Linked DNA regions of Homo sapiens: region 2 is reported to be linked to region 1. The links are microRNA targets in miRTarBase. Many come from high-throughput screens and were not tested one by one. Region 1 holds a microRNA gene; the other region holds the end of a gene's coding sequence.

What was found. The annotated mature microRNA hsa-miR-490-3p reads CAACCUGGAGGACUCCAUGCUG and lies in region 1 at 2,773-2,794, opposite strand. An mRNA with a match to its seed (bases 2 to 7 or 8) in the 3' UTR can be bound and repressed. Matches are read on the target gene's strand: a 7mer-m8 pairs with bases 2 to 8, a 7mer-A1 pairs with bases 2 to 7 and ends in A, and an 8mer does both.
Region 2: the mRNA of ZNF570 is a reported target of hsa-miR-490-3p. The part of its 3' UTR that is shown has no 7-base or 8-base seed match.

The regions. Positions count from the first base shown.
Region 1 is chr7:136,900,642-136,906,035 of GRCh38, reverse strand. It overlaps MIR490 (microRNA 490), which reads right to left and starts at 2,869; the gene lies at 2,742-2,869. All of the region lies in intron 2 of CHRM2 (cholinergic receptor muscarinic 2), which reads right to left. It overlaps LOC349160 (a long non-coding RNA gene), which reads left to right. Exons shown (of 4, transcript NR_046103.1): 3 at 4,035-4,186.
Region 2 is chr19:37,484,355-37,489,748 of GRCh38, forward strand. ZNF570 (zinc finger protein 570) reads left to right here. Exons shown (of 5, transcript NM_144694.5): 5 at 1-4,298. The coding sequence ends at 879. Among named protein-coding and RNA genes, the nearest start is that of ZNF570, 18 kb to the left of the region's middle.

The DNA of each region.
Region 1 (5,394 bases):
AATTTGACACTAAGACTCTACATAATATTACCAAAGATCTGAAAATGAGTGTGAAATAAACAAATGCTAATTTGAAAAAAAAATAACATTTTGGTCTTGGCTTTGATAATTTCCAGAAAAACATGGAATGATAAAATACAGTTTTTCAAAGTAAAACTAAGAAGCAATTAAATTTAAAAATATGTATTGATAGATACTCTCGCAATCAATATTTTGAGAAAGTTGAAAAATATGTGGGAGAAAATATTGAAACATAAGGGAAGTAAAAATAATAAAACCACAAAAAAAGAGAAGAGAAAATATGAGAGAATTAAACTACCAATTTAAAAGCAGAGACTGGAAGATCAAAATAAATAAATAAATAAATTCTAATTATAAAATACTTAAAGGGGATTGATCTGAATAAAATGGCACAGATAGTTTAAAATGATGACAAATTCTTTTAGGCAAACTAAAACAGAAGAAATAGGAAGCAGCCATATTAGTTTCAGATAAACTAGAATTACAAGCAAAGTGTACTGAACAGAACAGAGAAAAATAGTTTAGTTATGTATAAAATTCAAAATATGTTTAAAAACCAACAGAATTTGATTCAAACATGATAGGTGCAAAAAATGCAAATACAGCTACAAATCAGGTAGATTTATTTTAAAAAATAAGAACAAAAATAAATGAATAATATAATGAATATGGGAAATAAATACAAATAAAAAACGAGTGCATTTTGTGTGCATGTGTGTGTATATCTTGGCCCTTTTCAACAAAGAAAATGATCTTCAGTTATCCAAACAACTCAAAAACTGAAAAGCTTAGAAAATTCCCAAAATATAGACATTCTAAGACCATATTATTGGGGCAAAATGCAATAAAATTAGAAATTTGTAAGACAATTTGAAATAACAACAAAAGCAACAAACATCTAGCACTTCAGATTTTAAAAATTAAAATTATTATACAAAAAAGAACAACCCAAACTATAATTTTCAACCAATATTAATATTTGTGTTGAACATTTGATTTTGCTATCATCACAGTACTGTACACTTATAAACATATCTCATTTAATCTTACAAAGCACTATAATGTAAATATACTCACTCTAAATTACAAATACAGAAGTGTAGTGAGTTAAAGTCCCTCTCACAACATGTGTGAAACTGTCAGAATTCAAACCTAAGCTCCTTGATTCTAAACCCGTGCTCTTTTTCACCTGGTCTTAGCCAAAAGACTGAAAAGCAGCAAGCCTGTGCTCCCTTAATGTTAACCAGGCTATATTTTAAACATTTAGATGAGACTAAAGCAGTTGTCAGAAACAAATTCATAGCTATAAATGTTCCCAATATTAAAGAAGAAGTATCAAAATTTTATAATGCAGAAGAAACTAAGCTTTAAACTCAAGAAATTATTTTAAAAAGGGAAACAAAAACCTCTACAGAATTAAAAAGAAGTAACTACAAAAGTAAGATAAGTAATAAATTATAAAAATCAAAAGCCACAAAACTCTGGCAAAAAAGCATGAGAAAAACATTTAATATTGGGAAAAAGAAAGGAAAGATAAATTTGGAGAATAATTATTTTAACAGAATCATATGCACAATTATTTGATAAATACTACAAGCATTTTTCTTAAATAGATAATGGTAGCCATCTATAATTTAACAAAATTAATGAGTAGAGATATAGAAAATGTGAATAGGCAAGTGACTTAGAAAAATGTTATAATAATTTTTAAAACTGTTGTAAAAAATGATTTGAGCTTTTTACCAGAAGTTTTCCAGGAAGGGCCATTCAAACATTTAGAGAATTGATCATCGTTCTATGTAAAATTTTCAACAGTATAAGGATGAAGGGGAAGCTACCAATTGGTTTTATATAATCAAGTGATTATGAAATAAATTTCAGCCAAAGATAACTCAAAAATTAAAAAAACAAACTTTTAACTCAGTTTCACTTGCAAATGTAGATGCAAAATGCTTTAGTAAAATGGTAGCAAATGGAATTCAATAGTACATTAAAAGAGTAACATATCATGACAATTAAAGCCATTGGATTTAGAAATGTATTAGTATCAGGAAAACAAATAACATGTCACTTCACATAGTCTGAATAAGAAAATATATATATATGATAATTCCAATACAAGAAAAATAAAACATTTGATAAAGGTCATCTCCTTAATATCATGTACAACACCTACTTTAAACCAAACCCCAAGGCCATATTACTGTTAAAACACTAGTAGAGTTATTAAAACATCACAAGAATGACTGTTTCAGCATTATTAATTAACATTATAAAACATTTAGCCAATTAAAGATATAAATAAAAATGAGAAATATTGTAAAACAGAAGGCGTATTATTTAAGAATAATATGCTGATACACCAACTTTAGAAATCCAATAAATTTAAATTTTAGAAAATTGCAGTCTTAAATGCTAGATTTGCCTGTTACTAAAATTCATTCTGTACATAATTAAAATTCACAAACAAATATTTTACTTATACTTCTATCATTTCTAATCAGCTTTTTAAAAGAGAAATCTTTTAATACTTATTTTCATCCTAGTAGTTTACATTGTGACACCAGCTCTAACAATATCCACAAAAATAACAAATACTTGGATGCTGAGGTGTGAATTTTGTTCCCATTTTTGAAAGCAGGAAGAGTAAGACTTCCTTTTGAAGGAGATTTGCACATACACTATAGAAGACACCCATTTAGTTCTTGGGAAGATGGAGTTGGAAGTGTCCGCTGCTTGTGAACAGCTCAACAGCATGGAGTCCTCCAGGTTGGTGCATCTCTAAACTTGACCCACCTGGAGATCCATGGTGTCGAACAATGAACTTTCCAAACCAGCAAGGCCTCCATAAAGTGAAGGGAGATCCTCTTCACCACCGTTGGTTGAAGAATAAAAAACCTACACCTACACTAGCCCAAATGAGTTTCTGTTGTTTGTCTTCTGTGTCAGAATTTCATTCATTCATTTCCCATCTCTGGCCTATTGTTTAAAGTTGCTGGCCATAATGTATACTTTCCAGACTCCAGGTTAATCCCAGGCTGAGAAGCTTTGTTTGTTTGATAATGAAAAACTGAACAAGGAAACAAGCAAAAACTTGCAAATAATGTGTACCTTATCATAAACATCCAAAGAGTACAAAATTCTGTGCTCTGCAGTTGCTGTATAACAAACATATTAAATTGTACTTGATTGAGCAAATATTTACATCTTACTGTGGAATTTCAAAGTTTAATGTCTACACGTCTTATTAAGGTTGTTATCTATTATTGTATGGTGGAGAAAGGATATCTAGCTGATAGTCATGTTTAAAAACTGACCTGGGTTTGGGACTGCAACCAAATTCTAAGGGCCTAGCTGTTTATGATTTGCCCATTCCATTCAGGGTCGTCCTAATCCCTTCTCAATCTAAGATGCTTCATTCTCACTATAGTTTGCTCGAGAAAGAAAGTGGCTGCTTATGGTATGAGTTCATAAGAGTCATCTAGGATTGTGTTTAATACCCTATCCCACCAGCTTCTAATTTTTACGTGCATTTAATTGGGGCTATATTTGTTAGTTTTCAATTAGAAAGAGACAGATAAAAAGTAAACTGCACACATTATCAGAGGATGCTATAGCTTACCTTCTCACTTATTATGAATTTGCCACCTAAATTCAAACTCTTCTGAAATTTATACCAATTATTAATTCTGAAAGCAATTCTGATTATCTTAATAACTAGCAACTGACTGCAAACATAGAAGGATAGCTAGGTGGATAGATGGATGGATGGATGGATGGATGGATGGATGGATGGATGGATAGATAGATCGATAGATAGATAGATGAGTTTAAAAGGAAGATCACAGAATCAATGTTAGTAGTTAACAATTATTTTTATATTTTGTTTTGAGAGTAGGCTTTGATGGAGCCTAATGAAAGCCATAGAAGAAGCTAAGGGGAGGCTGGACTGTTATAAACAACCCTTCACTTATCTAATACAATTTAACTAAGCTTATCATTTTTTTTTATAGAAAGAGAAATTGATCAGAATCTACTGACAGTTCTTCCTGTCTGGCTGTGTAATGGATTAGCATAGAGACGAGCAGCACACCTCTGTCAGAAAACCTAAATTTAAGTCACATCTCGGGGCTCTAACAATTTACCACCAACAGCGTCTTTGGAGGTCAGCCCCTGAGTCCATGATTCCCCTGTATTATTGGGAAAGAATTAAGAGGTTTTGTGAGTTATGCATGAGATGTGTGTGCAAGTTCTTTGTAAGCTGTAAATCTTACACATTTATGAAATTATCAATGTTGTTATTTTGTAAATGCAACTGATCAAGAGGCTAGGTTCTTACAACAAATGGATCAAAAAGCGTCTGTATGTTCTCAAAAAATAACAATGGAAATGGGGGAAAAAAATGACATCAGGGAATGGCCAAACTGGGTTGCTTAGGGTCCAAAGATCATTGCTATTCAAATCACTGCACTACAAGATCGGGTGAGATCTGCTAATCTGTTTGGGTCACTATAGGTCAGGGCACAGCACATTATAGATGCTAAATAAATGTGTTTTGTATGAATAAATACACATTTTTCTTTTCCTGTAGTCAATATTTAGTGTGTCTATTTTCAAATTTGCCTACGTGGTAAAGCCACAGTGACATTGAAAACTTGCCCTGCAAGTGCCTGTGAATCTGAACTGTCTCAATCTGTTTCTAGCTGGAATGCAGCTAGAACTGCATGCAACCCACTATACCTTTCTATTTTTCCAAGAACCAAAAACCGCAAGTCCACATATTTAATTTCACGTAATTCTCACATGCCTGGATCTTGGAAATGGAATTTTTCCTTTCCCAGGGCACTCGTTTCCACTTTGGGGGTGCCCACACTCCCCGGGCTGTACAGGACAATCTACTGGCTTGCAGGAAGAAAGTATTAGAAACTCCGTTCTCAATTACTGTTATATCATTCTCTAAAAGAGGTTTTTTGTGTATGTACTATGATATACATAATCATGGAAAAATTATTTCTATGTAATTTATAAATAAGAATATATCCATGCCTTGATTGGAGCTCAAAATTCTGTTATGAATAGAGGTGTGTAGCTCACATTCTTGGTACCCTACCCATATCATTCAGATCTTTCAGTGTTCCCCTGCTGACGTCTATATGCCACTGTCTGCTTCTCTGTGTCTGGGGGCTTTTTCAGAAACCTAGGAAGGCCACTCTGCTCACCCTGCACATACGGAAAACCAAAAATGCCTCGGGTGTTTACAGCCTCTAGGAGCAGGCTTTAAATAACAATTCTTTTTTTAAAAAAAAGATTGTTTAGCAGTTGGCAAGATAATTATGAGACGAGCAATTCTGTGCCATTTCTTAGAATGCCTCA
Region 2 (5,394 bases), not on the chromosome of region 1:
CCCTATAAATGTATAGAGTGTGGAAAAGCCTTCAGCCAGAGATCAAATCTTGTTCAACATCAGAGGATTCATACTGGAGAAAAACCCTATGAATGTAAGGAATGTAGGAAAGCCTTCAGTCAGAATGCACACCTAGTTCAACATCTGCGAGTTCATACTGGAGAAAAACCTTACGAATGTAAGGTATGTCGAAAAGCCTTCAGCCAGTTTGCCTACCTTGCTCAACATCAGAGAGTTCACACGGGAGAGAAACCCTATGAATGTATCGAATGTGGGAAAGCATTTAGCAACAGATCATCCATTGCTCAACACCAGAGAGTTCATACAGGAGAGAAACCCTATGAATGTAATGTCTGTGGGAAAGCATTTAGCCTTCGTGCATACCTTACTGTACATCAGAGAATACATACTGGAGAGAGACCCTATGAATGTAAGGAATGTGGGAAGGCCTTTAGCCAGAATTCACACCTTGCTCAACATCAGAGAATTCATACTGGAGAAAAACCTTATAAGTGTCAGGAATGTAGGAAAGCATTCAGCCAGATTGCCTACCTTGCTCAGCATCAAAGAGTTCATACTGGAGAGAAACCCTATGAATGTATTGAATGTGGGAAGGCTTTTAGCAATGACTCGTCCCTTACTCAACATCAGCGAGTTCATACTGGAGAGAAACCTTATGAATGTACTGTTTGTGGAAAGGCTTTTAGTTACTGTGGATCCCTTGCCCAACATCAGAGAATTCATACTGGAGAGAGACCCTATGAATGTAAGGAATGCAAAAAAACCTTCAGGCAGCATGCACACCTTGCTCATCACCAGAGAATTCACATTGGGGAGTCACTGTCACCACCCAACCCAGTCAATCACCAAGTCCTATAGATCCTGAGTCCTAAATGTTTCTAGAATTTATACTGTTTTTTATCTTTAATGTTGTCACCTTGGTCTGATTCATCTCACTCTGATTACTAATATAGCTTTCAAACAGGTTTTCCTGTATTTATTTTTGCTACCTTTAAATCCATTTCCCACAATGCACTCAAACGGATCTTTTTTTTCTTTTTTTTTCTTTTTGAGACAATGTCTTGCTGTGTTGCCCAGGCTGGAGTACAGTGGGACGATCTCAGCTCACTGCAACCTCTGACTCCCAGCCTCTGCCTCCAGGGTTCAAGCAATTCTCATGCATCAGCCTCCCGAGTAGCTGGGACTATAGACATGCACCACCATGCCTGGCTAATTTTTGTATTTTTTAGTAGAGATGGGGTTTTGCCATGTTGGCCAGGCTGGTCTTGAACTCCTGATCTCAAGTGATCTGTCTGTCTCGGCCTCCCAAAGTGCTGGGATTACAGGCATGAGCCACCACGCCCAGCCTCAAAGTGTTCTTTTTAAAGAATAAGAAAACACACATGGGCTGGGTGTGATGGCTCATGCCTGTAATCGCAGCGCTTTGGGAGGCCAAGGCAGGCAGATCACCCAAGGTCAGGAGTTTGAGACCAGCCAGACTAACATGGCGAAACTCCATCTCTACTAAAAATACAAAATTAGCCGGGCGTGGTGGTGCACACTTGTAATCCCAGCTACTCTGGAGGCTGAGGCAGGAGCATTGCTTGAACCCAGGAGGCAGAGGTTGCAGTGAGCCGAGATGGCGCCATTGCATTCCAACCTGGGCAACAAGGCTGCAACTCCGTCTCAAAATAAAAAGAAAAGAAGAGAAAAGAAAACACATGTTACTATCTCCAGTTAAAACTTTTTTTTTTTTTTTGCTTGTTATTGTTCTTAGACTAATATTCACAGCCTTTAAAATTGTCTGCAAGGCTTTTGTTATTTGGTTCTTACACACCATTCAGCCTTATTTTATTCCAGTCTTCTTCTTTGGGCACTAGGCACTTCCCAGGACTAAGAGCTTAGATTCTGGAAAATCATAGCTCCAACACTACTATGGCATTGCGTGACTTTGAGCAATTTGCTTATCTAAACCTCAGGGTTTTCTTTAAATCTTAAAATAGGAATAATATAGGATACTGTACTGTAGAAATGTAAGTATTAAGTGAAATAGTGTCTGTTGTAGATTGATGCATATTAAATGAGAAATTTGCATGTAAAATACTTCATATAGTCTGTCAAATATAGCAGATATTCAATAAATGATAATAGCTAACATGTATTGAGTGCCCACTACACATCAGGCACTGTCTTACATACTCTACATATATTAACTCATCTACTCCTCACAAAACAAGATTCCTTATTGGACAAAGTGGAGCATTCCTGCAAAACACCAGTTCAGAATTTGGAAAATCTAAAAATGTTAGAACATAAATGGCAGTCTTTGTACTGTAGCTTAGTAGTTGTTATGAAGTCAGGTAGTGGAACTATAACACTGACAGCCAGTTTTAGGAAGTTTCTACAGATAATGAATTGGATAAGCCAATTAAGAAAAATAGAATTCACTGGGAAGAATGCAGAACCTACATTTAAATCAAGGAAGGAATAGAAATGGTCACAATTAACCAAAAAAAATCAATAAACATAGAAATTCATGTGATCCCCTTAAATAGGCACCACACCCTGGCCAGGTGCAGTAGCTCATTCCTGTAATCCCAGCACTTTGGGAGGCCGAGGTGGGTGGATTATGAGGTCAGGAGTTCGAGACCAGCCTGCCTAACATGGTGAAACCCCATCTCTACTAAAAATATAACAGTTAGCCAGGTGTGGTGGCGCACGCCTGTAATCCCAGCTACTCAGGAGGCTGAGGCAAGAGAATTGCTTGAACCCAGGAGACAGAGGTTGCAGTGAGCTGAGATCGTGCTACTGCACCCCAGCCTGGGCAATACAGCAAGACTCCATCTCAAAAAAAAAAAAAAAAAAAAAAAAAAAGCACTACCCCCAGCTAATTGTATGGTTAAATTCGGGTAATTTAGAAGGCATGTAAAGTGTTCCATACTATAGAAAAATGTAAAGTTTTAAAATTATTTATCCAGTGGTTGCAAAATTGAAATCAAAAGGGGATTAAGGGAAGAAAACAGATAGATACACAAATAATATAGGCATTCATTCTGTTAATATTGAGTAATTACTGTTTGTCAGACACTGTTTTAGGTATGAGGAAATGACAGTGAGCAATACAAAGGCCACATTCTCATGGAGTAAAATTCCAGAGGTGGAGACATGTAATTAATACTTAAATATAAAACAGTAGATTTTCTAAACGCAGAAAACGGAAGAGTAACAAGAAACTAAATCAAGGAGCATTATATAGCCTAGACTGCAGAGACTCAATATAATAAAGTTGGCGATTCTTCCTAATTATCAAATTTACTGCAATTCCAGCCAAAATGTTTCAGTGGTTTTTTTTGTTTGTTGTTTTTGTTTTTGTTTTGCCCTTTAGCTTCACAGGTTTGTTCTGAAATTTATGAGGTATAAATTCTTAAGAGCAGCAAGAAAAATTTCGAATCTATTTGTAGAAACTGCATATGATGATGGTTCATACCAGTAGAGAGAAAGATTGGATTTGGGGGTATTACTAGTAGTAAGGGGATTCACTAGTAGTAAGGGAAATGCAAAATAAAATCACATTGAACTAGTTCAAAATCATCACATTGGCAAAAGCATTAGAGTGCCAATTACTGGAAAGATGTGGAGCAATAGGAACACTCATACGGTGCTATAGGAAGTAGTTGTGTTTAGCATAATTTGGCAATGTCTAGTAAAGTTGAAGATGTGAATAATCTTTGACCCAGCAATTCCATGTTTAAACCTCTACATAGTCTCTCCTCGTGTTTCAAGGAGATACATATGATGGTCCATTGCAGAACTGTGAGAATGAGAAGTTGAAAGCAATCTAACCATTAGGTTAAATACAAGATAGAATGCAAACTAAAATGAATAACTAGAGATATTTCTGTCAACATGGGTAAACCTCAAAAATAGTATTAATGAAATTGAACTACAGACTATTTTATATAATACAGTATAACGTACAATTTCAAAACATGCAAATTAGTGTTATGTATTTTTGTCATGGCTAAATACTATATAAAAAGGATCTAAAAGAATTAATAAAATAATCATCAGATTCAGAACAGTGGTGACCTGCAGGGAGAAAGACAACTGAGATTGGGGAAAGGATGCAAATGAAAATACCTTTAATTATTCATTTCTTTTAAAAATAAGCAAATACTGTATAGCCAATTCTTAAAATTTGATAAAGCTGGCTGTGAGTATATGAGTCAGTTCTTACTCTCTGTATCTTTCTGTATAAACTATTTCATAATGCAAAAAAATAAAGAATATTTAAATGATGTTTGCTTCTATCAGTTCTTTTTTTTTTTTTCTTTTTTGAGATGGAGGCTCACTCTGTCGCCCAGGCTGTAGTGCAGTGGCATGATCTCGGCTCACTGCAACCTCCGTCTCCCAGGTTCAAGCGATTCTCCTGCCTCAGCCTCCCAAATAGCTGGGATTACAGGCACACGCCACCACGCTCAGCTAATTTTTGTATATTTAGTAGAGATGTGCTTTTGCCGTGTTGGCCAGGCTGGTCTTGAACTCTTGACCTCAGGTGATCTGCCTGCCTCGACCTCCCAAAGTGCTGGGATTACAGGCGTGAGCCACTGTGCCCTGTCAGTTACTTTTTTACTATTCCCAAGGTGTGCCACTGGTATTCCTGTATCCACCATTTTCTTCAGAAAGAAGCTTATATATGGTCTATTTGCAGAGGCAACCATTGTTAACAATTTTAAGACTATCTTTCCATGTTTGACTCATTTGAGAATGACGTTTTATGCTAAGGGTTTTATAAGCCTAATTTTCCCATCATCATTCTTATTGTTTTCAGGACCCCATTGTATATGCACCATGATTTGTTAATTTCCCTTTGTGTACTAAGTGTCCAGAATTTTTGTGGGCCAATTACTATCCTTTCTGAACTCAATTTTCTCAGATGTTAAAGGGAGGTAATTCTTTGTTTTAGAACTGTTACATGCATTTGTCATAATACATGTTAAATTTACAGCAGTATTTAGTAAAAGTTATTATTTTATAAAATATACTGGGGGTTGTGAAAGGAAACAGGAAGGGAAATGGCATGAGGCTGTTACAGTAGAAGCAAGCGGTAGAGACAGAAATTTACTTCAGATAGGCAGCATACAGAAACAAATACATAGTAACTCTGGATTTTAAAATGGATGCCTAACTTAGTCACTGTGATTATAATCAATATCCAGCAGAATTTGTTGATAGCTTCCCATTTTTATTATATTTTTCTCATTTATAAGTCAATGGAAAAATAAGCAATTAAGAATATCAAGGAAATTGTCTATCACTGTCAAAGAGAGGCTTCAGACATCCATAGCTGAATGGTTGAAAATATCAACAGAAACAGGATGGCAGAGTGAGGAA